Regions from separate parts of the Homo sapiens genome. Here all the other regions are linked to region 4. Evidence: fine-mapped expression QTL. A gene starts in region 4. Each other region holds a variant in brackets. All regions are shown on one strand. Distances are from middle to middle.

The links. PIP is the estimated chance that this variant, and not a neighbour inherited with it, causes the effect.
Region 1: its variant is the best candidate, but not a certain one, in a credible set for the expression of TRAM2 in fibroblasts (GTEx, PIP 0.82).
Region 2: its variant is the best candidate, but not a certain one, in a credible set for the expression of TRAM2 in blood mononuclear cells (TOPMed, PIP 0.60).
Region 3: its variant is the best candidate, but not a certain one, in a credible set for the expression of TRAM2 in esophagus muscle (GTEx, PIP 0.63).
Region 5: its variant is the best candidate, but not a certain one, in a credible set for the expression of TRAM2 in whole blood (TOPMed, PIP 0.63).
Region 6: its variant is the best candidate, but not a certain one, in a credible set for the expression of TRAM2 in naive CD4 T cells (Schmiedel 2018, PIP 0.66).

Annotation. Positions count from the first base shown.
Region 1 is chr6:52,549,843-52,554,916 of GRCh38, reverse strand. All of the region lies in intron 1 of TRAM2 (translocation associated membrane protein 2), which reads left to right. Among named protein-coding and RNA genes, the nearest start is that of TRAM2, 25 kb to the left of the region's middle. RefSeq lists an enhancer at 2,531-2,700. The variant G/A (reference allele first, on the strand shown) is at 2,204.
Region 2 is chr6:52,609,961-52,615,034 of GRCh38, reverse strand. No RefSeq gene overlaps it. Among named protein-coding and RNA genes, the nearest start is that of TRAM2-AS1, 35 kb to the right of the region's middle. The variant C/T (reference allele first, on the strand shown) is at 3,070.
Region 3 is chr6:52,506,920-52,511,993 of GRCh38, reverse strand. It overlaps TRAM2 (translocation associated membrane protein 2), which reads left to right. Exons shown (of 11, transcript NM_012288.4): 5 at 2,408-2,466; 6 at 3,676-3,760; 7 at 4,371-4,441. Among named protein-coding and RNA genes, the nearest start is that of TRAM2, 68 kb to the left of the region's middle. The variant A/GTA (reference allele first, on the strand shown) is at 2,473.
Region 4 is chr6:52,574,082-52,579,155 of GRCh38, reverse strand. It overlaps TRAM2 (translocation associated membrane protein 2), which reads left to right and starts at 2,096. Exons shown (of 11, transcript NM_012288.4): 1 at 2,096-2,360. The coding sequence starts at 2,241. TRAM2-AS1 (TRAM2 antisense RNA 1) reads right to left here and starts at 1,954. Exons shown (of 3, transcript NR_103446.1): 1 at 763-1,954. RefSeq lists silencers at 1,524-2,383, 4,241-4,290 and an enhancer at 4,641-4,690.
Region 5 is chr6:52,496,165-52,501,238 of GRCh38, reverse strand. It overlaps EFHC1 (EF-hand domain containing 1), which reads right to left. Exons shown (of 11, transcript NM_018100.4): 11 at 4,041-5,074. It overlaps TRAM2 (translocation associated membrane protein 2), which reads left to right. Exons shown (of 11, transcript NM_012288.4): 11 at 1-3,831. Among named protein-coding and RNA genes, the nearest start is that of TRAM2, 78 kb to the left of the region's middle. RefSeq lists an enhancer at 2,091-2,140 and a silencer at 3,224-3,425. The variant G/A (reference allele first, on the strand shown) is at 2,078.
Region 6 is chr6:52,539,294-52,544,367 of GRCh38, reverse strand. All of the region lies in intron 1 of TRAM2 (translocation associated membrane protein 2), which reads left to right. Among named protein-coding and RNA genes, the nearest start is that of TRAM2, 35 kb to the left of the region's middle. The variant C/AC (reference allele first, on the strand shown) is at 2,565.

The DNA of each region.
Region 1 (5,074 bases), 24 kb after region 4:
GGTGGCGTGTACCTCAGCTACTGAAGAGGCTGAGGTAGGAGGATCATTTGAGGCTGGGAGGTTGAGGCTGTGGTGAGCTGTGGTTGCACCCCACTGCACTCCAGCCTGGCCCACAGAGCAAGACCCTCTGTTAAAAAAAAAAAAAAAAAAGGATTGACTCTAAGTGGAAATGTAACTTCTTACTTCTAGACATTAACTACACAAGGCACATGGATGAAATGGCCTTTGGTGAAATGGTTGTTGAAATGGTGAAAATTTGAAAAATTTAAACCCCAACACAGTAGCCCATTGCTGCCCCATTGAGAGGCTGTGGAAATAAGTTACCCAGTCAGCTTTTGGGTTTGGGTGAGATCTGTTCACTTTGGTTTTCTTTCTTTCTTTTTTTTTTTTTTTTTTTGAGATGGGGTCTCACTCTGTTGCCCAGGCTGGAGTGCAGTGACATGATATCTGCTCACTGCAACCTCTGCCTCCTGGATTCAAGCGATTCTCTTGCCTCAGCCACCCGAGTAGCTGGGATTACAGACACGCACCACCACGCCTAATTTTGTATTTTTAGTAGAGACAGGTTTTCACCATGTTGGCCAGGCTGGTCTCGAACTCCTGACCTCAGGTGATCCATCTGCCTCTACTTCCCAAAGTGCTGGGATTAGAGGTGGGAGTCACCGCGCCTGGCCCACTTTGGTTTTCAAAACCAAAGTGGGATGCCCTGCCTCCGCATCCCTTCCCAGGGGTGCAGTAAGCAAACAGGCGGTGGGGACAGGGCTGGGTGGTAACATTGAGGGGTTCTGTGAAGTTCTAGGACTTGATTGCCTGGGAGAGCCTCTTGCTCAGGGCTGGTAGGCTGGGGCAGATGGTGTGCTGGGGCGGATGGTGTGCTCAGGGCTGGCAGGTTGGGGTGTCTTCCTGCTGTCCCATGGAAGATGGAGCTGTTGCTGCTGGTGGCTTATCAGCACGTATTTGTTAAGCTTGATTTATGCAAAGGGTAGGGGCAGGAGAACCCAGAAAATGATAAATGACAAAGCAATGATAAAAAACAAGAGGAAGAATGACTAATTGTTATTTATTGAATACCTGTGATGTGCTAGGCCTTGTGCTACATTTGACCTTCTAATCCCACTAGTCCCCTCCATAGTCCTCTTTATGGATTCTATCTCTGTCTACACCAAGCAACTGAACAACTCCATTTCAGAGTTAGTGAGGGCAGAATTGGGATTTTGACACAGGTCTTTCTGAATCCAAAATCTGGGCTCTTAACTATTGTGCTCTACTATCTCTCAACAAAGAGGTACAGGCAGTGAGTGCTTCAGGTGTGAGGAGGAAGCAGCCAAGAGGAGTGATGGTAGAATGGGGAGGAGGAAGGAGGAGGTGAGGCTGGAGCAGGCTCTCAAAGGAAAGCCAAGGCAGATGAACAAATGGAAGGCAGAGCAGATGGCTGGAGTGCAGGCAAGAAAGGACATTCAGAGAATCAAAGAAAGCGGCTACTACACATGCTGCTACACAAGGGTTCCTGGGCCAGATTGCCCTGGGAAATGCTAGGCTGTTTCTTTACTGTTTCTTTATTGCAGGACTTGTCAGAGCCTTCATATAGTATTAATGAGTTACATATTTCTCTACCAAATACATTTGTTGATCTTGGAGAGTATTTAATGGAATAATATCCTTAATATATCCTTTAGGACATCCAGGACTATCATATTAGTTTGGAAAGTTGTGATAATCAAATGTGGAGAGGCAGGGAGGATTAGGAATGCCAGATTAAAGAGTTAGACATTATCCTTTAAGCAGCAGAAGGCAATGGAGGGGCTGTGGTGTGTGCGTGTATGTTTGTGTGTATATGCCTGGCTATTCTAGCTATGGATAGTGGGAGGGGAGGAAGGGGTTTTGAGTCTTGAGGCTGAGGATCCAGTTAGAAGTCTCTCCTACAGGCTGGTGGCAAATGAGAATATGAAGCTCTTAGCAGCATTGGGAGTAGAAATGATGGATTTAATAAAATAGTAAAGGAAAAAGCCAACAAGGGGCTATAAGGAAAGGTGGGGAGTCTTTGACTGCAGCCTGGGACATAGGCAAGTATAGAGCTTTCTCCTGGGCACCAGGTTTGGCATGTTGAACGGGAGTTAATCATGCACTATGTAGGTAAAGATGCAGCCTCCCACCTCCCATCCTGGGGAGAAAGATTTCAGCAGGAAAAGTAGATCTGAGTGTC[G/A]CCGGAATAGAAGTGGCTGCTACAGCAGAGATTTCCAAGAAAGCAAGAAGAGCTGAGGCTTGCACTGGGAGCCTGGAAGTGAAGCCGTGTCACAGAAGCATGGGGAAGAATCCGTGGATACAAAGGGACTTCAGAGAACACCCTTAAAACATGAGAACTCTGAGGCCCAGTGAGGTGGATGGGAGCAGCTGGAAGCAGCCCGTCGGGTTTGTGGCTGAGCTGTCAGGGAACAGGTCTCTTGCCTCCTCACTGCACTTTTCTCCCTTCTGCTTCCTCTTAGTAATATATGTACAGCCATTTGAGCTTTACCTATTTGCATGGGCTTCAGTAGAGCTGCAGGTGGCCTTCCTAGCAGGTGTGGCCACCAAGTACCCAACAGATTTCAGTCTGTTCTTGTCTTCGTTGCCTCCTCGGGGTAGTGAAAGGGCTGGGGAGCCTGTTGGTCCTGTCCCAGGGCTGTCCTCTCTGCATCCGTGCCCCCTGGGCTTTGCATGGGGGAGGAGCCTGGAATCTCGCTCTCTTTAAGGCTGGAAGCCAGGATGGCTGCCTGAGACTGCTGGCTATCTGTGCCCTCTCCTCTTGCCAGGGCTCAGTCTGGGGCAGAATGTGGCCCAGGGCCTGCTTGTCAGCACGTGGCTAGGGTTTCCGTGTTAACGTTCCCAAATTGGGATCTCAGAAGATCAAGTGTCCGTGTTGTCTGATCACGCTGAGCCTTCTCGAGCGGCCAGCTGCAAACCTTTCAAAGGGCTGTGTGTAATTGGCTTGGGAGATGCTGTGGGGGACTGAGAAGGGGACAAAGAAGTCAGTTTTTAAAAGGAAAAAAATAAATGAACATAACAGTCTTGGGCCAGTTGGGTGGGGCATGGTGCTTGGGCACATTGAAACCCCTTCCTCTTCCCTTCCTATTTTTCCACTTCCAGAGGCCCCTTTGGCTAGCGCCGTACTGACCCCTGCAGACCCCCTCTGTGTAAATACAGCCTCTGTCTCCCACCCACTTCTTCATTATGCATTCCTTTAATCTGACCCATCTCCAGGTTGCCAGCTGGCAGAGACTCAGCAGATTCCAAACCCCAGCTGGTGCCAGAGTGTTTACACGGGCCAGGGAAGCTTGGCAGACAACCTGCCCCCAAGCTACTCAGCTGTAGGAAAAGGTAGAAAGACTCCTGGAGATAAGTGGCCCGTTTGTTTGCAGACTTTCTCTCCTCCCTCATTCACCCTCCCCTGCATGCCCACCCTCACTCCAGTTGCTGCTCTATCCTGAAAACGTTAGAAAGAATCCCTTTGTGAAAGGGAGGTAAATGGCTAGGGACTAGCAGCGTAATCCCTACATCCAAGCAACCCTGTGTGGCACTCTGAGCACATAAAGGTAAAAGATCCTTTGCCTTCCGGGCTGAAACAGATCAGATATTAATTAGGAGACATTATTGGTTAGTGTAGAGCCAGTCCCCATTCATAACGGATATGTTTTTCCAAAATAATAAAGCTATGTGATCGAGTGTTCATGAAGCCAGGACTCATATTTGTCACTGCAGCCTGAGGCCAGTGGTGTCCTCAAAATCCTATATTCACCTCCTCCTGCCTCAGTAAAGGCCCCCTTGAAAAACTCAGGCAGGAAACTGTTCGTCCACCACAGTGGTTTATCTTGATCTGAGTTTGTGAGAAGCCAGTCCCAGGGTGTCATGCCTAAAGAAAACCATTTCTGAAGTGGGTTATCAACACTGTTGGTCCTTTGGAAATTAGATGGCCCATAAAGAGTGGCGATTTGTCTGCCTCCCATGCGTTTCATGAGGGGTAGTACCAGGATGTGTGTGGAGGATAATTTTGCTGGTTTAAAGTGTCCTATTCGGTTGGGCATGGTGGCACACTCCTGTAATCCCAGCACTTTGGGAGGCCAAGGCAGGTGGGAGGCCAAGGCAGGTGGATCTCTTGAGGCCAGGAGTTCAAGAACAGCCTGGCCAACATGATGAAACCCCATCTCTACTAAAAGTACAAAAATTAGCCGGGTGTGGTGGTGCATTCCTGTAATCCTAGCTATTCGGGAGGCTGAGGCAGGAGAATCACGTGAGCCTGGGAGGCAGAGGCTGCAGTGAACTAAGATCTTGCCACTGCACTCCAGTCTGGATGACGGGAGTGAAACCCTGTCGCAAAAAAAATAAAAATAAAAAATAAAAATAGTGTCCCATTGCCAGCAGTTACGTTGATGAGGTTAATTATTATCATATGGTGTTAGTATTCTTTTATTTGAGTAGCATATCTCCATCAGTCAGAGTCCCAACAGGAAACAGGTGGGGTAATTGAGGAATGGTTATGTAGGCACTATTAACAAGGGCGTGGACTGGCTCAGGGGAAACAGATAAGGAACAGTAAAGCATTCTAAGGCTTGCGAACGTGGGGAGCTATCCCTAAGCTTGAAGGGGCTGAGGATAGCATGGATCTAGAACTAAGAAGGAAGGGAGAGAGGAAATACCATTGAGAGCTGTGGTTGAAGGGGAGGGGCTGGAGTTTTGGTGGAGGGTTGCAGTGACTGCCAGAACTGTCCAGCAGGAAAGGAGCCAGGTGATGAATACCCCTTTCATGCTCTCTCATGTTCTGCAGATTCCATCGGAAGCCCACTGAAGTACTCCATAAAGGTGAAGCTGTCTGTTCTGGGACACAGGGTAGGATGGAGCATTGTGCAGCCCAGTAGAACTTACAGATGCTATTCTGCCTTCTGTTTGACTCCTACCTCATATATGACAACAGGCAATCAAAGGGTGGCAAAGCTAAACTGATGTCCCTGAAATACTACCATCTCTGAGAATAGGACTTTTGGACAGACGTTTCCTGATTGTAATAAGCCAAATAGTGCAACACATCTAACTTTAAGCTACT
Region 2 (5,074 bases), 36 kb before region 4:
TAGAGACGGGGTTTCACCATGTTGGCCAGGCTGGTCTCAAACTCCTGACCTCAAGTGATCTGCCCACCTCGGCCTCCCAAAGTGCTGGGATTACAGGCATGAGCCACCATGCCCAGCATCCAGTACATTCTTAAATATATGGATGAATAGACTGGAGTAAAAAAAAATGGAGGTATATTTTTAGTGTAGTAATCTGACCAATTTGTCCAGGCAGAAAATGTATAATGAGGAGTTATGGGAAGTAAATTCAGGAAATAAGGTTATCTTAGATTTTAGAAACTCTTGAACATTCAGGTTAAGAGATTGATCTTAGCTGGCTCGGTGGATCATGCCTGTAATCCCAGCACTTTGGGAGGCCGAGGTGGGCGGATCACGAGGTCAGGAGTTCGAGACCAGCCTGGCCAAAATGCTGAAACCCCATCTCTACTAAAAATACAAAAATTAGCCAGGCATGGTGGCACACGCCTGTAATCCTAGCTACTCAGGAGGATGAGGAAGGAGAATTGCTTGAACCCGGGAGGTGGAGGTTGCAGTGAGTTGAGATCACGCCACTGCACTCCAGCCTGGGTGAAAGAGTGAGACTCCAACTCAGAAAAGAAAAAAAAAAAAAAGGAAAGAGAGATTGATCTTGATCCTGTGAGCAGTGAAAAGCTATTGAATGTTTCCTTTTATTATTATTATTATTATACTTTAAGTTTTAGGGTACACTTGCACAATGTGCAGGTTAGTTACATATGTATACATGTGCCATGCTGGTGTGCTGCACCCATTAACTCGTCATTTAGCATTAGGTATATCTCCTAAAGCTATCCCTCCCCCCTGCCCCCACCCCACAACAGTCCCCAGAGTATGATGTTCCCCTTCCTGTGTCCATGTGTTCAATCCATGAAATGACATGATTAAAATGTTTGCTTAAGAATATTAGTTTGTCAGTAGAATGCTTGATAGAGAAAATTAATAAGAGATTGCAGGAGGGAGATGACACTTGAAACTTCACTTTCCCGGGTGTGAGGAAAAATTTTGAGAATATAGCTGATAATTGTGACACTGACGGAGCTTTGCAAGCTTCCTAATTGGGAGACCAAGTGTTATTCTTATTTCTATCCCTTGCAACCAATACAATGGCTTGCATTTCACTCGTGCTCTGTAGTAGTCACTAGGTGACTAAATGAGGTACATAAAAAAGGACAGATGCACAGACTTTGAAAAGGAAGACTTAGTTAAGAGTCGACTGGCTGCCTCTGGAAGGTTGTCAAGTAGAAAATGCTTCTATTGCTAGAAATAAAGGAAATAGGAACAGGATCCAATTTGGGAAAATGGTAAGTCTACAAATCCATATTTTACGGTGTATCTTTTTTCCAAAAGGGACAAACCAAAAGCAATTCATTCTCATAATGTCCATAAGCCTGATAAACAATTCATAATATTACCCGTCCTTCTCACCTTTAATGGCTGGAGGAAAGTTGCCTGATGAATGAGAGAATCACTCAGTCACAAAACCGGGAAGGACTATCCTAAGAACAGAAGTCTAAACCCCTTCTGGCAGGATTATCCAAGGCTAAGAACACACAGTCTCTATAATTGCACTAAAAAGCAAATCCTGTCTTTGAATAAGGGCATCATGACAATCTGGATGTATTATTCGCTCTTCAACTTTTCATCTAGGTTGAAGGAGGTGAAACTAATTGCCTGTCATCTAGGTAAACAGCAATAGTGAAAGGAAATAAAAACCATGCTGCTCTTAATAGAATCCTCAGGTTGGTTGTTTCCAAAGAATGCTTACTTGGGTAAATAAGTGAAATGTGGCACAAATGGTTAGATGACACCAAAATGAAGGGGCTCCAGTGAAGCCTAGTGATATGTGTAGTTCAACTTGGGGTTAAGTGAATAGTAATTGCCCTCCATACAATTTTAATTAAGGATATTTTTAAGGGCATAGAGATGTTGACATTCACACATACTCTACCTGGGGTCCACAGAGGTTGTGTGCCAGCTGTGAACCATATGTAGCCCACACAGACTGCCTGCCAGAACTCCTTTCCCCCACAAATGCACCCACAGGTCACCCTCCTGTCATTGAGACTGGCTGTGTAATGCCTGAGGAAAGCGCCATGGTTATTCATTCATACACAAATATTTATAGGGTGCCTACTTCCTGTATGACGTTGCGCTAAATATTCTGGAGATAGGAAAGGATAAGAAATACCAATATGAGTAAAGCATTGCCAGAGCCCAAAAACAGCTTACAATCTACTCTGGCAGACAAAGTGCATCACGGGAGAAGGAAAACAGTGTAAAATTTTAATGAAACCTTTTAAGAAGTATCCCAAGATACTATACTACTACTTAACAGGATATGGAAAAATCCAGAGGTGATCTGAGTTTGTAAGACAAAGACAGAGCTCACTCTTTGTTGGAAGAAAGCTCTTATGAAGGAGGAGAGAGCTGGGCTGGATTATTTTGCTATTATCTAAACATGCCTTGAGGCTAAGCAAAAAGATGCCAAATGGTCACCAAGAGATAAAACAATTAAACAACAGACTGCCTGGCTTGTACAACCCAACATCCGGTCTGAACTCTTTTTCTCTGAATGCCCCAGTTGTTCTGATCTTGTATAACCTCAGCCTACCATTGTGTCCTTTACAGTTTTAGGGCTGTAAATTTACTGAATTTACTGTTTGAGTGCTGGTGTCGGCTGGGCAAGATGGCTCACGCCTGTAATCCTAATACTGTGGGAGGCCAAGGCAAGAGGATCACTTGAGCTCAGGAGTTCAAAACCAACCTGGGCAACATAGCGAGATCTCATCTCTATTTAAATAATATTACATATTTTTTTTAATTGAGGACTGGTAGGGACTTTTAGTTCATCATCATGAAGGATTAGCCAAATCCCTGGATAATTAATCAGCAAATGCAAGCCATTTTACCTTAGAATTCTGGATTGTCAAATACATGAGGCAGGATCCAGCAGACCAACAGAACATGCTAGACCTGATAGGTGACCTCACGGCTAAGACTCAGAGATCAGATAGGAGGTCAAAGGCTGCCAGTTCCTCATCTGTGCAGAGC[C/T]CTGGTAGGCAGGAAATATACTAGGGTAGGATACAGGGAGTGTTCTCACTCCTTCCTTCCTGTAAGTGAAGAAAGACAATTTGGGGCACAGAACCATGTAAAGTTGCTCATTTTCTATTCCAATCCAGAAACTATGAGAAATTTAAAATCTAATACAAACTTTCTAACATCATGGTTGTTATAGAACCTAGGGGAGCAATTGAGGCTTTTCTACTTAAAGCATAGGAGAGTTGGCTGGGTGCAGTGGTTCCCACCTGTAATCCCAGCACTTTGGGAGGCCAAGGCAGGTGGATCACCTAAGGACAGGAGTTCAAAACCAGCCTGGCCAACATGGTGAAACCCCATCTCTACTAAAAATACAAAAATTAGCCAGACATGCTGGCAGGCTCCTGTAATACCAGCTACTCAGGAGGCTGAGGCAAGAGAATCTTTTGAACCCAGGAGATGAAGGTTGCAGTGAGCCGAGGTTGCAATGAGCCAAGTTCACGTCATTGCAGCCCAACCTGGGCAACAACAGTGAGACACCATCCCAAAAGAAAAAAAAAAGCATAGGAGAGTTGTTTTAGCCTAGTGAGAAACGGCTCCAGAAAGCCATCTAGATGGCGTGGTCTGAAATGGGCAGAGTAACGGAGGAATTTCAGATGCAAGAGAAAAATCCTCAAAGACAGGCACCACCAGGCTTCTTGTTTAAGCCTTCTCTGCTTGTGACATCTTCCTGTGCCCACTGTTTGCTGCTCAAACCTCTCTAATTGCACATCACTTTATAATGCAGTGAGTCATAAGGGCAGAGTCTTCATGGGCTAATCACCTCTTGGAGGCCCCATCTCTTAATACTGTTACAATGGCAATTAAGTTTGCAACACAGAAACTTCTGGGGGACACATTCACACCACAGCATTCACTTATCCGTGTGAATCCCTCCTTAGACAGTGAGTTTACAGAGGGGCAGAGACTGTTTTAATCACCTTTGTATTCTCAGTGCCTACTTCATCCCTGACACATCATAAAGATTAAATACAAGTAATCAAATGAATGAGTCATTGAGAGCAACCATTGGCAATGTTGTGGCCTACACATGTGCCTCTCAAATGAGAATTTGCAGAGTCCTAGAGCTCCAGAGGGGTCGCTTGGGGACCACCATGGGAATGTGGGGGAACACGTTCCCGAGTGCCCTTCTCCTCTTGTAACTTTCAGATCTAAGTGGCTCTGCTTTTATCTGTTTTATATATTAGGGGTATATCATGTCTAGTTTTGTTTGAAAACTGTTCAAAAAATACGATATGTAGAAGGAAGAACCTGTCCTGCTATAATACTATGCCATGTGGGATCATTTGGTACAATATCAGCAGGACATTGTTACAGGACAAAGAGGAGTCAGGAGTGTCCAAGCATGGTCACAACCTCAGGACTAGCAGTCAGTCCAGAGGCCAGCGGAGAGATGACCTGCAGGACAAGGAGAAAGGTGGCCAAAGGGGACTTCTATGTCACCTCTCAGGACCACCCACCTTAACATAGCAGCAGATAAGCCCCACTTCCTTCTCTTGGTCTTCCCACTCTCAAACTATATTCCAGCAACTCTTCTGCCAATTGCAGCATGATCTTTCTTGCTTCCGGATTCCCTCTGCCTGTCAGGCCAGTCCTTCAAGTCTCCACTGAAATTTCCCTGCCTAACATTCTATCTTCCTCAACCTAGACAACGATGGGCGTCTTTTATTCCCTGTATTTATTTAGTGTGCTTATCACAATTGCAATAATCTATTTAATGTCTCCTCCCTTCCCCCAGCTTTATTGCAAGTTCTGATAAGAGCAGGATGTTTATCACTACAGTCCCAACACCCAGCAGTGTCAGGCAGCTAGGGGATGCTGAATAAATTCTTAACACATGTGGCTGGCAACCTCTAGGATGACTCCCAGTGATCCCCATTCTCTAGTCTGCACAGCCTTGTGTAATCTTCTTACCTTAAGTAACTTGCTTCTAAATTTTAGAATATGATGATGTTGAGGG
Region 3 (5,074 bases), 67 kb after region 4:
TATTTGAGAGAGCTCACAACTGTCACCGCCACCACACACGCCACCACCCGAGAGCCTCATCCACTTTTATTCCTCAATCGGCACGTGACCCAGGGAGGAGAGAGTGGTAGTGAGAAGAGATTAGAAATGAGGCCATGTAAGTTCGAAGTGAGATCATTTCCTTCTAATCCAGGTGACTGTGACTACAGTGGTATAGATGTATCCGATAAAAGGACTTATCAGTCAGGTTATTGTGCTCATGGAGGCCCAAGTTTGTGGGATTAGGGCCGTGGACTATACCCGAAAGGCATGCTGATAGGTCACAGGGCGTTTAGTGACTCAAAGGTGGGTGGATCAGCCCTCACTTGGAAATACAACTAAAGATCCTAATAGACAATAACCTAGAATGCTTCTTACTAAACCCTGTTGGCCTCATTCTGAGCACTGTAAAACCTCTGCCTTTAATCCCAGTGTGAACATCTGAGGTTCTCAGCCTTCTCATCAAAGCCACCAGCTCAGCTGATTTTCTGATTTACTGAAGCAACCTAGCCTGAAGTTATTGGACCAGAAGGCTTGTGGCCCAACTCGGATTTCAGCTGTGCTACTGAAAAACTATCTTGGCTGGGCGCAATGGTGCACGCCTGTAATCACAGCACTTTGGGAGGTCGAGGCAAGTGAGGTCAGGAGTTTGAGACCAGCCTGGTCAACATAGTGAAACCCCGTCTCTGCTAAAAGTACAAAAAATAGCCGGGTGTGGTGTTGCGTGCTTGTAATCCCAGCTACTCAGGAGGACTGAGGCGGGAGAATCGCTTGAACCTGCAAGGCAGAGGTTGCAGTGAGCTGAGATCGTGCCATTGCACTCCAGCCTGGGCAACAAGAGCAAAACTCCATATCAAAAAAACAAAACAAAACTATCTTATTTCAGGAGATCCTTCCTATCTGTTTTTTCATTTTCCCATTTCTAAAATGAAGTCATCCTAATCTAATCTGCTCTGCCTTCTCTGAGTGACAAATAAGAGCCCTTTCTTCAGAAGAGAGAAATTGCCCAAAGCATTCATCATTCATTCATTCAACCAACTGGTGTGTATTGCACTCCTGTAGTTTCAGCTGACTCTTGCTTGTGGTAGATTATTTCTTCCCATGCTTTGTACTCTTGGATTATAAATTCATCTTTAGCAAGGTTTTATCTGTGGAGCATCCTTGGATGAGGGTATGTCCCCAGGGTATCACTGGCCCACCACACTATTAATTCTAATTTCTTACCTTGGCGGCTTTTGGATCACACAGGTAGTATATTTCACCTCCAAACTCAGAGTGAACCTGAGGTTGCAGATTTTTAGAATAAATGATTTTGTTTTCACCTTGGGTATGGGCTGAGCAGACATCTTCATTTCCCTGTGTTGGTCAGCAAACACTTTCTAGTCTTTTCCTTTCTCTGAGATTGTGGCCTTTCAGAGGTCCTGGTCTTATACAAGGTCTTGGGTTCCACCTCCCAAGGCACCATCTTCTGTTCTCACATGGGCACAAAAACCCTGGCCCATAACTAGTGCCTTTTGGGCTGCTACAGTGTCACTTTACTGCTCTGCCTTTTAGCCTCCCTCTCCCTTTGGGTCCCAGGGGGTTTCCCTTTCTTACTGTGAGCTCAGCTCTTTGCATTTAAAAGAATATTCATTAGATTTCACCCAGCATTTCTAGATGTTTTGTGATGGAAGGATTTTCATGTTGCCATCCCCACCCCATATAAGGTGCTGGACTACATGTTAGAATTCTAAAGATAGGCAAGAAAAGGCCCTAGTGTGAAGGGACTTGCAAGAGTAATGGAAACAACTGACAGTAATGACACAGTGTGGTAGGTGTCAGAGTCCAGCTGCATGGTGAGGCCTATGGGGTCCTGCCATGTTTTTTATTCAGCAGGCTGTGAAAAGCCAAAGTAGGCTTTTCATTTTTCCAGCGAGTGGTGATTCTAGAGTTCATTTGCTTATTCATTATGGAGGCATTTCCTGAGCGCCTGCATGCCAGGCACAGGACTAGACACTGGCACATAAACTATCCCATTCATTTCCAACAATAACTCTGTGAGGGTGGGTATTTTTATTTTGTTTTGCAGATGAGCCAGCTGTGGCTTAGGGAAACTAATTAGCTTGCTCAGAGGAGCAAGACTAATTCGCTTGTCAGACTCATCTTCAGATATGGGTCGTTGGACCTCAGAGCGTGGCCCTTCCTACTCCAGCATGACTCTTCCACAGTAAAGAAACCAGCCAAGCGCCAGGGGTCCCACACAGAGAAGTTCTCTGTTTTCACATTTCCTGTTCCTTCCTCTTTCTGTCAGGTGGGGACTGGATGCATCCCTGACCCCTGGACCGGTCCCAGGGCCCCAGCAGGTCTCACGTCCACATCTCTAAATGGTCTCTCTTCTTGCCCACTGCAGGAAGGATACTTAACAAACCCAAGAAGCCTCTGGGAAGACTACCCGCATGTGCACCTCCCGTGAGT[A/GTA]TTCTGTTGACTCAGCCCCAGGGAGGAGCGACCGGGCCCACTGCCTTCCTGTCCCAGCGGAGTGTGGCCAGAACACCACAGGCCCAGCTGGCCTGACGAGCAGATCATGCCCTGAGCCTATTGTGGATGGTAGACTTGTCTGGAAGCCACTTCTTCTCAGCATGCTTGACCAGAGAATCCCCAGATGAAATTCCATCTGTGCTGGCTCCCATCACAGAGGTCCCTCAACTGCATGAGACAGATTCAGAAGCAGAACATCTCTCTCCATAATGCCCTCTGGGTTTCTACCTTCTTGGCGACCCCCTGACATCCACAGAGTGTCTTCCCTTCTGGCCTGCCATGGCTGGTGGTCTGTCAGAGCCAGTGTCCTCTGCCTCATATAGTGCTGCCAAGAGGGCAGTGTACCCCAAGGGCAATACCTGGGGCCATCTCCCTCAGGAGGCCACCCTTTGCCTTTCCCGAGATCTTTGTTTTTTGTCTTTTTTCTGAGATGGAGATTTGCTCTTGTTGCCCAGGGTGGAGTGCAATGGCATGATTTCAGCTCACTGCAACCTCCACCTCCTGGGTTTAAGCGATTCTCCTGCCTCAGCCTCCCAAGTAGCTTGGATTACAGACATGTGCCACCACGCCCAGCTAATTTTTGTATTTTTAGTAGAGATGGGATTTCACCATGTTGGCCAGGCTGGTCTCAAACTCCTGACTTCAGGTGATCCACCTGCCTCAGCCTCCCAAAGTGCTGGGGTTACAGGCGTGAGCCACCACGCCTGGCTGCCTTTCCCGAGATCTTTAAGAGCAATAATAGCAAAGGATGTAGGGCTGAGTTAGAACCTTCCCTTGCTACTTAGAGCTGTTTGTTGTCTCAGTGTATCTGTTGGTCCCTATCTCCAACAGTGCTCTGTAATCAGCTCCCTCCTCAAGGCTGAAGGATTCCTCCTCCTCTGCACTATTTTAATCATGTTTGTTTCTTTCTGTGGACTTTCCGTGTCCTTTAAGTGGTTTTGTATGTGGAACAAGGGCACAGGCCAATGGAGAAGCCAGGGTCCCAGGCTCAGGGTGCGGCGGTCACTGGCCTAACTCCCTTGCTCCTGGACCAGCTCCTCACAGGCAGAGTCTCAGCCCATGCTTTTCCCTCCTGTGCTTGGCCAGCACCTGCAGGGACACTTTTCTCTATCCTGCCCGTGTGACTTGCCCCCTTGTCTCCAGCTTCCAGGTGAAGTTTTTCTACCTATGCCAGCTGGCCTACTGGCTGCACGCACTTCCTGAGCTATACTTCCAGAAGGTACGGAAGGTGAGTGCTCACTTCTCTCCCTTCTTGGAGGCCATTCATTGACCACTCCCCTCCTGCTATTCCCAGGGGTACCTCCCTTCCTTTTCTCCAGAAGCATGGAGTGTTGGGTGGTGATAGGAATATGTTGGGGATTGAGCAACATGCTGAGTCATCTCTTGGAGAAGTGTCATGTAGTTGACCACCAGTGTCAGTCTCTTGCCTGCCTCTTCCACCAGACCTGTGGCTTTGGAGGAAACCTAACTCTCATCTTATAGATGTCAAAGGAGAGGTCTTTGCCATTTCCATAGTCTTTTTTTATTTTTACTTTTTATAGTTTCCTTCTGAATTATTTCCAAGAGCCCTCTTCTCCAGTCCCTGTCTCTTATTTCTCAATCCAAACCTCACCCTCTGACACTAGACCCAAGGCTGCTGGAATTTGGGAATGGACCTGAATGCCCTTGAATTTCAGCAGCCTGGTGCAGTGGGACTGTGGGACTCGTGGGACATGGGACTGTGTGTTAAAGCAGCCCAGAGGAGCCTGGCCCTCTCTCATCCCCCTGCACTTTTCCCCCTTCCCTGAATCTTCAGTTAGGGAATTAGCAAATTTACCATCTGCTTCTCTTGTTTCCAGGAGGAAATTCCCCGCCAGCTCCAGTATATTTGCCTGTACCTGGTGCATATAGCTGGAGCATACCTCTTAAAGTGAGTGAGACCATGGAGCCAGCCAGATTTCCTTGCCCTTTTATGTCCATGCATCTGTCCACACACTCATATAATTATCAGGCATTTGTTGACATCCTCTGTGTGCCTAGCACTATGCTAAGACTTGGCAATACAAAGATGGTAATGGAAGATTCTTTATCTTCAGTGGTTCATTCTCATTCTGAAGAGACAGTTATAGACATAAGTAAGGACAGTTGAGAGTGATGAACACCATAACACAGTATGTATCATCTGCTCTGCAACCCAGAAGAAGACCCTCAACAGAGACAGCCAGGAAGACTTCCAGTGGATGTCGGCCTTTGAACCATGGCTTTGCAGCTTGAAGGCCTCCCAAAGCTGGGCTCTTACCTCACAGTGTCCAATGCAAACACTGCTAGAGCTCGTAGCCCTGGAATTCCCTTCCCTTTGGTTTATAATGACATGGAGAGTAGGTCTCTCTTGGTTGTTCTAGAGGCAGAAAGAATTGCTATAATATTAGTTCTCGAAGAGCCTCTTTTATGAAAAGAATCCTTTTGATGTTAATAAGCTGTGTCATTGATAATTTGGGCTTTTGCTGAGTGTTATCCATGCAGTAAAAGCACCCCACACTTTCTCTAGGCTGGCACTTACAGA
Region 4 (5,074 bases):
CATATAAAACAGTTGTTTCATAAGATCTTAATGGAGCTGAAAATTTCCTATCACATAGTGATGTCGTAGCCACTGTAACATTGTAGCGCAATGCATTAACCACGTGTTTCTGGTGATGCTGGTGTAAACAAACCTACTGTGCTGCCCCATAATATAGTTTAGTATAAATGTGTAGCAAAAGGCTGGGTGCAGTGGCCTGTAATCTCAGCACTTTGGGAGGCCAAGACGGGTGGATCACTGAAGATCAGGAGTTCAACACTAGCCTGGCCAACATGGTGAAACCCTGTCTCTACTAAAAATACAAAAATTAGCAGGGGGTGGAGGGCACCTGTAATCTCAGCTACTCAGGAGGCTGAGGCAGGAGAATTGCTTGAACCTGGAAGGAGGAGGTTCCAGTGAGCCGAGATGGCGTCACTGCACTCCAGCTTGGGCAACAGAGAATCCGTCTCAAAAAATGGCGGATCACTTGCGGTCAGGAGTTCGAGACCAGCCTGGTCAACATGGTGAAACCCCCACCTCTACTAAAAAATACGAAAATTAGCCAGGTGTGGTGGCACATACCTGTAGTTCCAGCTACAGGCTGAAGCATGAGAATTGCTTGAAGCCAGGAGGCAGAGGTTGCAGTGAGTCCAGATCTCGCCACTGCACTCCTGCCTGGGCAACAGAGTTAAGACTCTGTCTCAAAATAATAATAATAGCAGTGGGGGTAACTTAAATTCAACCATCTAAACCTATAAAGAAACCAATTGTATAAAGTTCAACCTCATAGGTGTGGCCGCACGTTGCAAATTTGAACACATCTTCACAGGTGGAAAGTCGAGGTGCTTCAGAGTTCTTGATCTTTCTGTTCCTCACAAGACGAAGGTTCAACTTTGAGAAAGGTCAGCCTTGAAGTTAAATGAGGTTTAGTCCAATCTAGGCATTACTTTGTCATTTCCTTGAGAGTCAGATAAGGGAATTACAGACCCAAGACTGTATTTTAAGTAAGGTGGAGTGCAGATTGAGGAAGTAAAATTTCTCTAGGAACTCCATCCTGTCTCAATTACATTCCACCGCGTGCCACTTTTAAAAAACCATATTTATTTAGAAGTGAAATAACTGTGGACCTAATAAAAAATGGAATAGGAATTAGTTTTTTTTGTTCATTACGTATTTCTGCACATCTAGAAAGTAACTGACTGCTTCATTACTGGTAGGATTAAATCCAATATTTGCGAATATAATTTATTAAGAACACCTTTTGTCCTTCCAGGAGTACTTTTAAGACTTAATATTAAATAGAAACTTTCAGTGAGAAAGTTCCTTCCTTTTTTGCTTCTTCTGTGTTTATTCTTCCACTTCTTCTGATTAATATGTAAGGTAGACTTTCGGTGAAATGTGTGTAGCTAATTAATGGTGGCATGAGGGTCCCAAAAATTACTGGGCAAAACTGCAATCATCCACCCTCTCCCCGCATTGGAGCGAAAGCTCCCCTAGGGCAGGGTCTTTCGGTTTGTTGATCTACCTGAACTGTGCCTAGCCCACTGCAAGTTCTCGATAAATACTTGAGTAATCTCCATTCACTGATCGTCCGTGCAGGGCGCTGTGGCCAGCCAGAAGGCCGGTTCGCGGCTTCCCTGCTTCCGCCGCACCCGCGCCGCCCTCAGCCCCCGGGGCCACAGCCCGCAACCCCGGGAGCATCCGGCTGCCCGGCCACCCCCGGGGCGCTCGCTGCCTCCGGGGCCTGCCCTTCCCGCGGAGGAAGGAGCGGAGCGAGGAGTGGGAAAGCTGGGCCCACTTCCTGTCCGGGCAGGCCTGGGCGCCCGCCTCCTCCGCGGCCTGCTTTCTCCACCGCGAGCGGCTGAGCCTCGGGCCCCGAGAATGCGGCCGGGCGCGGCGCTGGCGCGGGACGAGGAGGAGCCGAGCCCCGCTCGCCGCCCCCGTACGCCTCCGCCCCGGTAGCCCGCGCGTGCCCAGCGGCTAGAGGGTTAAGCCCGCGGGGGGCGGGGCCAGGCGCGCCGAGTGCGGGCCGCGGGCTGGGCGGGGGCTGGGCGGGGGCTGCGGCCGGGGGCGGTTACGGGCGGCCGGGGGCGGGCGGAGGAAGGGGGCGGGCCCCGAAGTTGTTCCGCGCTGGGCGGGCGAGCGGCTGTGGGAGAGCGGGCGGCGGGCCGGCGGGCGGACCGGGCCGGTGCTGGAGAAGTTTGCGCTGCGGTTCGTGAGCGCAGGGTGCGGGCCCCGCCGGCCGCTGCGCGCCCGCTGCCATGGCTTTCCGCAGGAGGACGAAAAGTTACCCGCTCTTCAGCCAGGAGTTCGTCATCCACAACCATGCGGACATCGGCTTCTGCCTGGTGCTCTGCGTCCTCATCGGGCTTATGTTCGAGGTGAGAGCCTGGGGAGGAGGGAGCTGGAGGGACAGTGCCCCCTGTCGTGCACCGCCCGGCACACCCCTGCAGGTCAGCGGGCCCTCCTCTGATCGGAGGCTCCTGGCTGCCGTGTACGTTATCTGCACCCCGGCTTTGTGCACTGTACCCCTCCGGCCTGTACCCCGGCCAGCCCAGACAGCACCCCCAGCTCCGCGCCGTGCCAGCCATGCCATGCTCTGCCGCCCCCTTGGGCACTCATCGTATCCTGCAGCTCTGTCTGCAGCCCTGAAACCCCAGCCTGGCCTCGAACCAACCGCCGCGCTGCCACCATGGCTTGACGCGTGGGGTTCCCTTTCTGGCGTCCAGGAGCCAAGCCCAGAGACTCCCAGACCCGCAGTCATTGCACAACCCCCTCTTGCCCCAAGGGGTGGCCACTAGCTCTTCTGGGCTTTTCCAGTGGGAGAGACCCAGAACCTTTTCCACTTCCTATGTGATTTTCTGGGTGTTTTGCATCTCAGCTCTGGAACGTGCTCGGATGTTCACGTGTGGCCCTGGCCCCATCCCAGCAGTGGCCTTCTGCTCTCGTCTCGCTCCCACTTTTTTGCTGTGCTCTAGAAGGCCAATTTTTGGATATCCTTTACCACTCCGTGAACTGTCCCTTTAGATCCATCTGCGGCGACCCAGAGCTTCACCCCCTTTACAGAGACAAGAAGAGAGACAGGGATACCCTCCACTTTTTGGGGAAAGTTGATTCTCTTATAGTGTAGGAGTGGGGGGCAGAGGATGGGGATCCCACCCCCAACAGCAATGTCCTGGTGTCGGCCTCCCAGGCAGGGAGTTGTAGAAAGCCAGCAAGGGGTCAGAATTCACAAGACTGATGGGAAGGATTCCCTACTCTTGCAGAGCAAGAAAAATGTGATATTCAAAAGTGGGAAGAACTGGAGGAAGCTTGGCATGGGTTTGTTGCGGTATATCTTGTCTCAGAAGTGAGATATGTGAGCGACATTCCCCTCACTCTCACCGTGGTCTCCTCTGGTTCCTGAGACTCCTTGTCCTCCCTTCTGCGTCAGCTTGCTTATTGCATTCTCACGGTTGGGTTAGGAAGCTGTGATCATTTACAAACTTCCTTGGAGATGGAGGATGGCTTGCCTGGCTAAATTTCCTTCCCTGTCCCTCTGTCTCGGGTTCCCTGTATCTCTACGAATGACAAGGGCCCTAATTGGCTGGCGAAGCTGCCCTCAAGCTGGGAACGTTCTTGTGGTGGCCAAGTCAGGGTTGGATGAATGAATGTGTCCGTGGCTGAGCTTTAGGGTCTGTAGGAAATAAACGGTGGTGCTAGGACTGGGGTCTCCACTCCACTTTTTGATAGTGCTCCTTTAGTTCAGTCCCTCTCTCCTTCCTCTCCCTCTCACAGCTCTCTCTAGTGGTATATTGGGTCGGGCTTGCTCCACCTTGTTCTGGGTTCTCCCCTGGAAGTGTGTGGTGTCACACAGAGTCATATCCGTGTGTCTCAGTCCCTGTTCTGTGACTAGTCTGACTGAAAACTGACTGCAGCCTCAGTTTCCCCATCATTAAAGACGTTCATAAAACTGGTCTTCGTCACAGGGTGGTTGTAAGGTTTAACTGAGATCATATCAGCAACAAAAGCCATAACATCTCCTACCAACATGAAAAAGTCTCTTGCGCCTGGAGCCCTGTGATTATTTATCATAATAATAGCTTAACAAAATAACAGAATTTCCTTTGCCCAGCGCATTCTCTGCTGTCTGTTTGCTGTCCTCCATTCTAAGAGGCCTCCAAGTGCGTGTCCCCAGCCTTGGAGGGTGTGGCTGGAAAGATACACGTGACAGCTGTAAACCTCAAAGCCACAGGCTGCAGCGACGAAGTTTCTCGCATAGCCTGTGGCTCTCTCCGTCATATTTCTAGCATTTGTTAGGGTTTGTGGCCCTCCCTGTTTTATCTTTGCTCAGAAAGGGCTGCCAGCATTTGAGTTTGGTACCTACCTCCTTCCCTGGGTCTCTAGTCTTATGGAAAGTCCTGTGCATTAAACCTGCCACTCTAAAAGTTGAAAGGTGTTAAGAGCTGTTACTTCCAGTATCTGGTGAAAGAGAAAGGCCCAAGACGAGAAAAACAACAAACAAAACTACTCTTCCTCCCCCTTAGGCTTGTATTGGGGAGTGTAGCAAGGCCCCTGGTTGAAATGCCTACAGGCCCCCTTTTCCTGCCAAGCCCATCACTTCTTCCCATAGCACCTTGAACCTACAGGACCTACAGGGCAGGTGTCTCCTTCTTTTGGAGGTACTTTGTGAGATCATCAGTCTGTGCTTCTCTGGGAGAAAGAGGGCTTTGCCCTAAGCCTCCAGTAAGAAGGTCTTGTGTTCTTCTGTGCTGGGCACATGGTGGGGGCCTCACTGTCTTTACCCACCGACTAACTAACTCTCCACAGAGATAAGTATTCCTGGGGGTGGGGAGGGGGAGTTTGGAACTGCTGCCTCTATCAAATGAGAGCAGAAGCGTCCTGGATACTGTAGGTACCACAGAGAAACAAATGTGGGCATCTTCACACTCAGAGTAAAGCCTGGGGAGACGCCTCATAACCAAGCACAGGACTGGCTGGATATCACTTAGGATCTTCTGGGTTTCTCTCTGGAAGTGTGTGGTGTGCATGTGTGGGTATGTAGGGATGCATATGGTGCGATGGTAGGTGCAACTGGGGACTCACCACCCTTTTC
Region 5 (5,074 bases), 78 kb after region 4:
TTGATTACCCTTAGGAAGTGAGACAGTGTTTTTGAAAATATGTATTTCCCCCATTTCTCCCTCTCCTTCCCTGACACTTCTCTGGGCTGCACAGCAGAAACGTTGGTAAAAGGGCAGTTTGGTTTCAACACAGCAGACCTGATATGGGATCCCTTAGCCACTTTAGTCAAACAGCCCTGACAGAGTCTATAATTGAGTTCAGGCCCCCCACCTTGCCTAATAACTGCAAATCGCATGTTCAGCCAGCAGCCTCCTAAGCCCACCTTCCTCCCCCATTAGAGAACACCCATCCTAGGTGCTCTCCAGGCTGTGTCATTGGCAGGGCTTCACATGCAGGAGGCCTCTCTCAGGTGAGTCCAGGTTAAACTGTTGAGTTGTGGCTTCAACAGATATGTATGGCATGCTGGGATGTGCCAGGTGCCTGCGTTGTGCCAGTTGCTGGAGAGGTAGTGTGAGCAGAGCAGCTGAAATCTTGCCATCAAGCAACCCTCATTCTCATGCCTGTAGGTTTCCATTGCTCTGTCCCAGGACACTTGCGTGCCAGAGACGCCACAACTTCATGTCCCTGTCTCTTGCAAGCTCCCCGTGCTGCCAGTACTTCATGCCTTGGATGTGGTCCCACCAGCCCAGTGGCCGGGGTCAGCTTAGGCTCTGCTTCCCAGTGGACGGGTGTGCTAAGGGTTTATTTTATGTAAAAAAAAAAAAAAAAACAAAAAAAAACCCTGAGACCATGAGTGGGGCTGGCATCTTGCCAGCCTGGGCTTCAGGGATGTTTGGGGGGGGTGGTTAGAGGGTAGTTGTAGGGTACTTTGTCACCCCCCTCCCCCTGCCACCCTCCCTGGCACGTTTATTTCACAGCAGAGCCAAGTCTGTGGCAGGTTGACACAGACTGTGTTGCCAGAGCTGAAATAATTCCACTTCATCCTATGAGCGTGTTGGGCTAGCTTGTTCTAATTTTGGCCACTTTGGCTGTTTTCTTCAGTTTTATGCATTCTCTCCTGCCCCAAAGTGCCAAGCCATTTGTGAAGGCTCTGCCAGACACCTCCAAGCTTGAGAGCTCAGCACCATGCACCAAGAGCAGGAGAAAAGACGTAAACCTACCCCAGCAACTGTGGCCTCTCGACAGCCCTGGCTAACTAACTTACATTTGTGGGGAAGCCAACAGACACAGCAGGAGGAGAGGGAGGTGGCGCTGGTGGACCAAGGATCTGTGCTACCCGCTCCCCTCCTTGGAGGTGCAGTGATGATGGGAGTTATTTTTACCATCCGGGCGCTGATAGCTGCACTATTAATAAATTGCATGTGTTCCTTTTGAAGGTAGGGGATGGTTCTGGGTGAGAGGGGAGCAGGCTGAGCCGGCGGGGGATCTGCTGTCCTCCCTTTTGAGTCAGTTCTAATCCCATGTGTGTCTGGGCCACCAGACCGAAATGGTTGCTGAGAAACTTGTCTGTTCATGTCCCAAGGCATAACTTCCCAACATTTAAGAAACCCCAATAGACACCTCTGCCCTGGCCACGTTCACAGATCCTTCTCTTGACCGGAAACCCTGGGACCCTAAGAACCCCTGAAGCTTGGGGTGGGTGTGTGCTTCTGGGGTCTCTTTTGGGACCTCCTTTGTCAGTACCCCTTCTTTTTTCTAAGCAGCTAATAAGAGGTTGGGTGAAAGAGTGCATCTCCTCCCAGGATTCCACAACAAAATTCTTATCTTCCATGGATGCTTTAATTGGAAGTGGGTTGCCGACCCCCTTGTGCCTAGAAAAGGCCTTCGCTTGGGTTTCCTTTGTATGCTTCAGCCTTCCTAGTTGGTTTTTCTAGGCCTGGTGTGAGAGGTAGGGAAGTCTGCACATAACTAATTCTTTTGCTTAAGGGCCTATGGCACAAGTGCACAAACTTCAATTCTTGATGTTCTAAGCTCTCTCCTCTAACAGAGGGAGTGCTGAAAGCTTTTGAGTCAAGACAATGGAGTGCTCTTCCTCCCTCACTCTGCCTTCCGAGCTTATGGTTCCTTTTCTCAGGAGAGGATTTTCAGGATTATTGGAGGATTAGGTCATTGTCAGATGACTGGAAAACCTAAATA[G/A]GATCTCTCTCCAGCTCAAGGTTGTCCCAGTGAGGAAGACTTTACCAACTTCTCACTCTACCCCACTACTCACATGAGTGTTAGCTCCACCTTGCAAAGGCTGAAGACCAGTTCTCCCCAGTGAAAGCTGCCTCATTCTTTTATGGAGTTCCCTGGAGTGGCAGAGCTATAAAGACGAGCATTGGGATTTGCAGTCTCCATGTAGCCTTTCGTGCTTGGCAACCCCTGTAGACTTTTTGTCCCAAGCAGATTGCGTGCGTGCGCCTGTGTGTGAGAATAAGTGCCTTACTTTGCTGTGTGGTTTTCAACTTGTACTCCGTGGCCAGCCCCCAGTTGCCAGGGCTCGACGGCAGCCAAGGACACCATACCTCAGTATAGTTATATATAAAAGGGACACGGATTGTGACAGTTTCACCCCATTTGTTTCTAACCCCGCTGCCCAGGATTAGGGTCTGTGGTGTGTTCTGTTTTGTTTTTGGTTTCTCCCTTGTGTCAGTTCTCTTCTGGCCCAGCTGGGTGGCTGTGGAAGTCTGTGAGGTGGCCCAACCACAAGCATACCTATTAAGAGAAGCCCAGAGCTTCCAGCCCCCACTTCGAAAACTCTCCTCTGGCCCCACATAGCAAACTCCTTCTCCGTTATTTTCCCCACCCCCAGATTTTTTTTAAAAGGCCCACTTGCCGTAACCTCTTTTGGTCTATTTTGCTTCCCATTCAGCCCAAAGTTTATATGATAAAGGTGTTTACTTTTACTTCCCAGTCTCCAAGTGCTAACACATAAACACATACATGTCTGACTGTTGCAGAACTGTTCGAGCTCCTAATTCAGTGTTACCTTGTTTTAGTCGCAGCAACCCTCTCCCCTACCCCTTGCCCGCCCACGTTTTTCTCACTCTTCCGGGTTGTGCAATAACTCTCCCAGCCAGTGGTCCTTTCCACAGCCTTTCTGTCCCTTAAAACACCTGCAACTGGGGGAGAAATGGGACCCATGGGAGGGGGAGTCGTCATCCCTTACACAAGAAATAGCCACTTTCCTTTTGTTGTCATTCTTGTGATCCTGGGTGGGTTTCTGTGGCACTCTTTTAGAACATGTAGCATCATCTTAGAGGTCTATTTTTAAAAAATGTGTTGAAGAGGAAAAAACCATTCTCACGATGGGGCTTAAGTCATTGTCCAGGAATAAGATTGGCGTGGTGCCCATGACATCACCGTCACTCTGCCTAAAAGCACTCTAGAGCTACTTGTTCACGTGGAGAGGAAGGATATTTTGCGAAGCAACAGCCGCAGGTGGAGAGCCCTGTTCACCTGATAGGGTCTAGCTGTGACAGTAAATATAATACCGCTGTTTCCTTGGGTACAGATTTGAGTGTTCATGTGATGAGACTGTAAACCTCATTTTTCGGTTCCTCTGTTTAAAAAAACATCTGAAGGATGAACTAAGGCTGCTGGTGCCCTGAGCAACTGATAATGCAAATGTGGACAAAGTGTCTGTTTTCTACTCTAGCCTGTTCATATGGACCAAATTTCAACAAGGAACTCAAGGAAAATTTGTACCTGCCGTATTTATGCTTTCATGTAAAAAAGGGTTGGGGGGAGGGGTGTCTTTTTGCTTTTGGTGAACTTTTTTTCAAAATCATTTTTCCACTGTTTCTGTCTGGTTTTAAAACAAATTACAGTTTTGTATGGATTTTTTAAATGTACATTTTGGAACAAATGATCAAATATTTTCTGAAATAACAATAAAAGGCAGAAAATTATCAGAATTGTCTCATAATTATTTCCTTGACGTGCTTTTATACAGTGATGCTTTTAACGTGGATGTTTACGTTTGCTTAAAGGAGTTTGCAATGAATTTTAGCCCTCATGTCTATTATTTTTCACTATATTAGTCATTTCTTATATATTTTGACCCGTATTTGTCCATTGTGATATGAATTAGGGAATTAAGGATGGAGAGTCAGTTATGTCAAGTGCTGGATAGCAATAAGCATCATTTTTATTTGACTCTTTAATAGTAAAGTGGAAAAGAGGTTTTCTTAACATGGGGTTTGTGGGTAGGAAGCTCCAGAAACAAGCACATCATCCTTGATGCCTACTATACTATGATGTTATTTAGCTTGGAGGAAATGGGGTTTCGTTTGTGTAAAGGCCAACAAATATGTTGGTGCTGACTAGAAGACATCCAAGTATTAGTAATAGTGGGGATTGCTGGTGTCACTTACATGGCTGCTGTTGGCTGTAGCTGCTTGCTGTGTTTACCAGAACCATCTTTCTTTGGAAAAAGATCTCAAAAGATGAGTGCAGTTACAGGTGGCAGTTAGTCAAGGACACCCATGGGGTGTGAGAAAGAGGAAATGTTTGCTTGAGGTGAAGGTGAGTGGTTCTGATGCATGGCAAGCTTCATTGTAGAGTTGGGTCCTGCTCTGCCATGAGAAGCTAGGTGAACTCAAGCAGTTAACCCTTCCGAGTCTTTTTGTGCATCTGTGTCAAAAGGGTTTCATGTTTTGTGGGGAGTCATGGTGAGAGATTTAGAGATACTGAATGCTAAGTTCATGGTACATATAAAGCACTCATATTGGCTTTTTAAAATGAACTTATGTGCCAGCAGGATACTCAGGAGTCACTTAACCAAGTGGATTCTCTGGACAACATTTAGAGACGTCTTCTCTACCTATGTGTCCCAAATACCCTCAAAGCCTATAGATATGGATTTGATACACCTTAATTGGATGGTATTTTCAAGGCCCCCTGATGGTGCAGACAAGGTACAGGCCCAGGTTTCTGAGTAGTGGCTAACTCACAGCCCATCTTTACCCGCAAGGCAGATTTTTATTAGTCCCAAAGCCGTAAGCACTATAAGCAGTCTTAGTCAAATGCTTCAGTTAGACCTGATAGCTTCAGCTACCAGTGCTAATCTTAATAATTCTCATTCTCTCTTTGTGTGTGTGTGTGTGTGGGTGTGTGTGTGTATTAGAATCTTTCAACTCCCTGGTGGCCAGT
Region 6 (5,074 bases), 35 kb after region 4:
ATGGAGTAGGGGTAGTATGGAAACTAGGACACAGAGATCACACATCTAACATTTAAAAAACTCATATTTTCACTTTCCGGCCTCAGTTTGCTTAGTTTAATGATAGGCGGAGGTTGACATCCAGGGTCAAGGCCTGTCTTTATGTGCCCCTACACAAATACCCAGAGGAATTTGAAGGCTTCCTGTGAGAATTGGCCTGCAGCCCTGCTGACGGGCCTGGTTTATGGCCCCCGGAGATGGCTTCACCCTGCTCCATCGCTGTGTGAACTCATGGTTCATTTTCTTAGCAGGCTCTAATCCACGTGCCTAGCTCTTCAGTCAAAATGTGGGGGTCAACATGCTGATGTTTGAAACTTTCAAGGTGGTGGAGAATAATTTGAAATGGTTGCAGCAGGTCACTGTCTGCCAACTCTGGCTTTCTCTAAGAGCAAACAAGCAAATGAAGGCAAATATACCTGGGTCCTGCCTGGTCCAGCTACCCTGAGTATGTGGAGACCTTGAATAATCCTTTTATTTCCCTGAATACCAGGAAATGCCAGAAGTTCCTTGGGGATGATTCTCCCTGGCACCCACTCTTGTTGCTTGCTGAAGATTAGTGACAGACAGGATGTCGCAGACACATCTATACTGATTAGAATGACCCTCCTCTCTTTTTGCTTTCTGTCTTACGGAGCGAAAACATCTTTAAAAACTACAGCTGAAATGACACTGTGCTACACCGGTGAGGGGTTTCTTTTCTGTAGTCAAGTCTAAAATATTACCTAATCTGAACTCTCCAAAAATAACTCACAACCTAAAATTTTTCACTCCATAATCCTTTCTTTTTTATGTTATTATTTTTAATGTATCAATGATACTGCATCAGAACAGGTGGCTTTTGGCCAAAAGTAAAAACATTTTGTTCTGACCAATGTGTGTTTTACTCATATCCAAACACAACCAGTAATATGAACTCTGCCCCATGATGCAGGAGAAATAAATATTAAGAATGTCACTATTCTGGAAAATTATTTTGCCTGAGCATTTAAAATTTTTTATGTAGTTTTTAGCTTCCATAAGGAATGGTTTATGAGTATGCTATGCTATCCAGATAAGGGGAAAAGCTACTTGGTGGGGGCAGGTGGGTGTGAGTGAGAGTGAAGTATATAATCAAGTGGTAAGTATTAGAAATACCTAGTCAGTGCTTTTTTTTAGGGGAGGATGAGAATATATATATTAAGGCTCTCAAAGAAGTAATACATTTACTTCAGCAAATTCGTATGTTTTATATAAGGCTATCTATAAAGCACGTAGAAGGCCAAGTTCAAGCTATACCAGCATAAATTGCATAAATACACAGTCTTCTTAAAGTTATAATTAACTTGTGGATATAAAGGCAGTGGGGAAGGGCTTTCCCTAGGCCACCCTCTGTTTTTCAGTACCCGATTAATTTCCCAAATTGGGGATGTATATTATGGCAAGTTCAAGCTTTATTCTCTTTTTTAAAAAGCCCAACTTCAAAGATTTTTTAAACCCTTTATTGTGACTCTTTCTACATTCCTCTGTATCCCAATATAAAGTTTAGACTTTTAAATCAATGACTGTAACAAACCAAGTAATATAATTTTATTGTGGCTATTCAAATTTCGAGTTTTTTTCATAAATACACAATGTCACTTTTAATCTAAAACTGCTATCAAAACTGTTAATAGTGAGTCTATTCAACATCGTGATCACAGGCTTGTAGAGAATCTGTTGTGTGCGTGTTTGTTTAGCTTTGCCTGATTTTTGTATCAAGGCAGTTTTTCAGGTGAAAAACCAGAATCTCTAGGCGTTGCTAAAAGCCACACAGAAAGGTACTGTCATAACTCTGCCCCCTGTGATTCAGGCGCTCAGCCCTCACAGACAGCCTCTGGCCCTTCAAAACGGAGATTTTCAGAAAGCACAAGTGAAAAGCATCTTTGTTTCAGCTGTATCTGCCTTTTATCGAGCAGTGGAGGGGCTGCAAACCCACGTCCATCACACCCCGACCACATACCTGGCGCATGCAGGTGATCAGTGGGCTTGGGACATAAACACTCCAGGAAAAAAGGCTAAAAGACTATTTTTTTTAAAAAAAAAAAAAACCCAAAAATCTCTTCCCCACCAATTGGGCGTAACTTTCCAAGGTTTTCTTGTCTGCCTGAAATTTTCCTATTCACTTCCTCCGCAGAAAGATGCAAAATCAATCTGGGGAAAGCCTTAGTGAAGACCCTTTGGCTTCCAAAAACAGGCCGAGCTGGGAGAAGAAGGGAAGTTTTAGGTACCTAATTTCCCAGCCTCAGCAGGACCTGTCACTTGGCTTTACCCTGTGTTTCTCAGGAAGAAAAAATGAGGGTCCTCACTGTCAGTCGTGGGACATATGTGTCTCTGTGTTTTGTCCTTTAGGTGGGAGGTGTGGTGTCCGTGGGACAGAAGTCATTAAGAGCAGAGCTGCTCCTGTAAAATAAGGCCTTCTGTACCCTGTCTGCCCCCGGGGGCTGGTCTGCCCACACAGCCCCTTCCAAGTGCCAATGCATGGATGTGTCTGCCAAAAAAAAAAAAAA[C/AC]AGAATAAACTGAACCAAAGGATTTAATACTTTAAAAGAGAAGCCATGAAACTGCTTTCATCACAGTTCTTCTCTTTTATCTTTGGTGACCAGCTAACAACTTGCAGTGAAAGGAGAACCTATCTGGGCATCTGGAAGCCTAGGTGTACCCAGTGCCTGTGGCTGGCAGGTGGTGGATTAACCCGAGAGGCCTTATTTTCTTGCTCTGTCAGACATAGGTGATACCCAGACCTTATCTTCACAAAGTGAAGAAGCAACAATATATTTTAAACTTCTGGAAAGACCTCTTAGAAAGTTTGTCAGTGTAAGGTTGCGTTTTGGGCATTGGAAAGTAAGTAGAATCAGGTAAAGTTTACCTTTTCGAGCTGAGGGTGAGAAGGACCTTTAAGGACATTCGTTCTGAGCTGCTCCTTTGGCTTTATCCTTCCCGTGCTTATCTGTGAAATGGGGACATGATTAGTACCTATCTTGTAGGGTCATTGTGGGGATGACATGAGATAGATTTATGTGAAGCCCTTGGACTCATGCATGGCACCAAATAAGCACTCGATAACATTAACTGTTGTTGTCGTTATTAATAGATGAGTAAACTGGGGTCTAGAGAGGTGAAATGTCCTGCCCAAGGTCACCCAGCTGGCCCACAGCAGACTTGGGACTGGAATCCACATCCACTATGCTTAGCTGGAAGCAGCTATTTCACCAGCATCCTTGGTCTAGTTGCAGCCAAGAGCTCAGGTTCATGTGCCCCTAATACAGCATGGCATGTGAAACAGTTTTGGTTTGTTATGGCTACACAAGCATGCTCAAGGCCTTTGCCTTTGTGTTTGATGCCCTGTTTTAGTTAAAAATTTAATGAAACTTTCTCTCTTTCTCACTCTCTCTTTCTCTCTGTGTATATGTGTGTGTGTGATGTGACCCTTCCTACATAATTCAGTGTTCTCCTTTTACATTAGTGTATTAGCACGTTGTCACTTTTAACCTTTTACCCACTGAGCTTGGCATTTAAAATGCTATTAAACTCAATAATGTTTCCTATAAACAGCCTTAGAGGGATGAGAAATAATTGGAATGACATTTTTAATAGGCTCCTGGTTCTCAGCCCTGTGTGCTACAGGAACTCAGCTGGTGCTTGCGGAGAGGGACTTGTTAGTGGTTTCATCCCTAGTCTGAGGTCGGGAGAGGGTCATGGAGTGAAGACTTGGGGTGCTAAAGGACCTTTTAAGGCACAGAAGAAGGCTGAAGAAGTAAGTCTGCTCTTGACTAGTGCTTTTTGCTTTTTTAATGGATGGATGTGGTCAATCTAGAAGCTGATCACTCCTTCAGGTGGCTGCAGAAAAGCTTGGAGCCAAATTTCTGGCCACCTTTAGCCAATGAGTAGGACTTCCTGGAATGCATTTTTGTGGATCAGCCTCATTCCTTGCTTCTTTTCTTTGCCTAAAATGCATATTTTTTGTGTTCTTTCCTGCTTCCATTTTACATTACCATTCTATTCTATGTGCAGTATTGTGTGCCTCCTAAGTTTGTTTTTGGGACAAGGTTTTTAAAAAATCAAGTTGAATGTTGCCTTTTCTGCTTGTATAGTTGTGAGGTCTCGGGAGGCTACTTTATCTCTCTGTGCCCCAAATTTGGCTTTTTCATCTATAAACCAGGGAAACTGACACCATCTTGTTGAGATATGGTAATGTGGGAGCAAGCATGGCTGTTTACAGAGAAAGTTGCACTTTTTAGAATGGTTTCTGCTGCTACTACCAGGGGGGCTAGGGATGGAAAAATACTGGGATCTAGTATTTTTGTCATGATTATGGCCGTAGATCCTGTTCTCTCAGAATCATGTTCAGAAAACATGTTAAGCATTCATCTGTAGTCACTAAATATTATAGCTGCTTACAGTATGAGTTTGTCAAATAGGAATTTATGAGAAACCTACTATTCACCCAGCTCTGGGACAGACCGAGAGAGAGAAGACATACAGAGAAGAATAATCGTGGACAGATGACAGGATGAGGGTCAGATAGCTGAGCACAGCACCGACTCTCTCCTGCTTAGTCACTGTGTTCATTTAAGCATTTGCTGAGTGCCGCTCTGTTCTGGGGCAGTTTGAAGCCATCCATGGATGTGCACCTCAAACAAGGCAAGTCAGATCATCAAGGCAGGTCAGATCCCCACGCTCCTACAGCTTATGTTTCCCCAAGGAAGAGACAGTTTAAAAATAAAGATAAATGCTTTAGAGCTGTACACTTAAAATGGGTGATTTTTTTTTTTTGTTGTGTAAATTATACCTGAATACAGTTGTTAAAAAAGAAAAAAAATCTTGGCCCTCATGGTGCTGACGTTCAGGTTTTCCCTGATACGTTTGATCCTTATTATTTGTGGATTTTGTTTTTGCAAATTCGCTTACTTGCTGAGATTTATTTGTAACCCCCAAATCAGCTTCTTTGGTCATTCACAGAGATGTGCAGAGCTGCAAACACTTTTGGGTTGCCCAACACTCACATTCCCAGTTGAGGCCA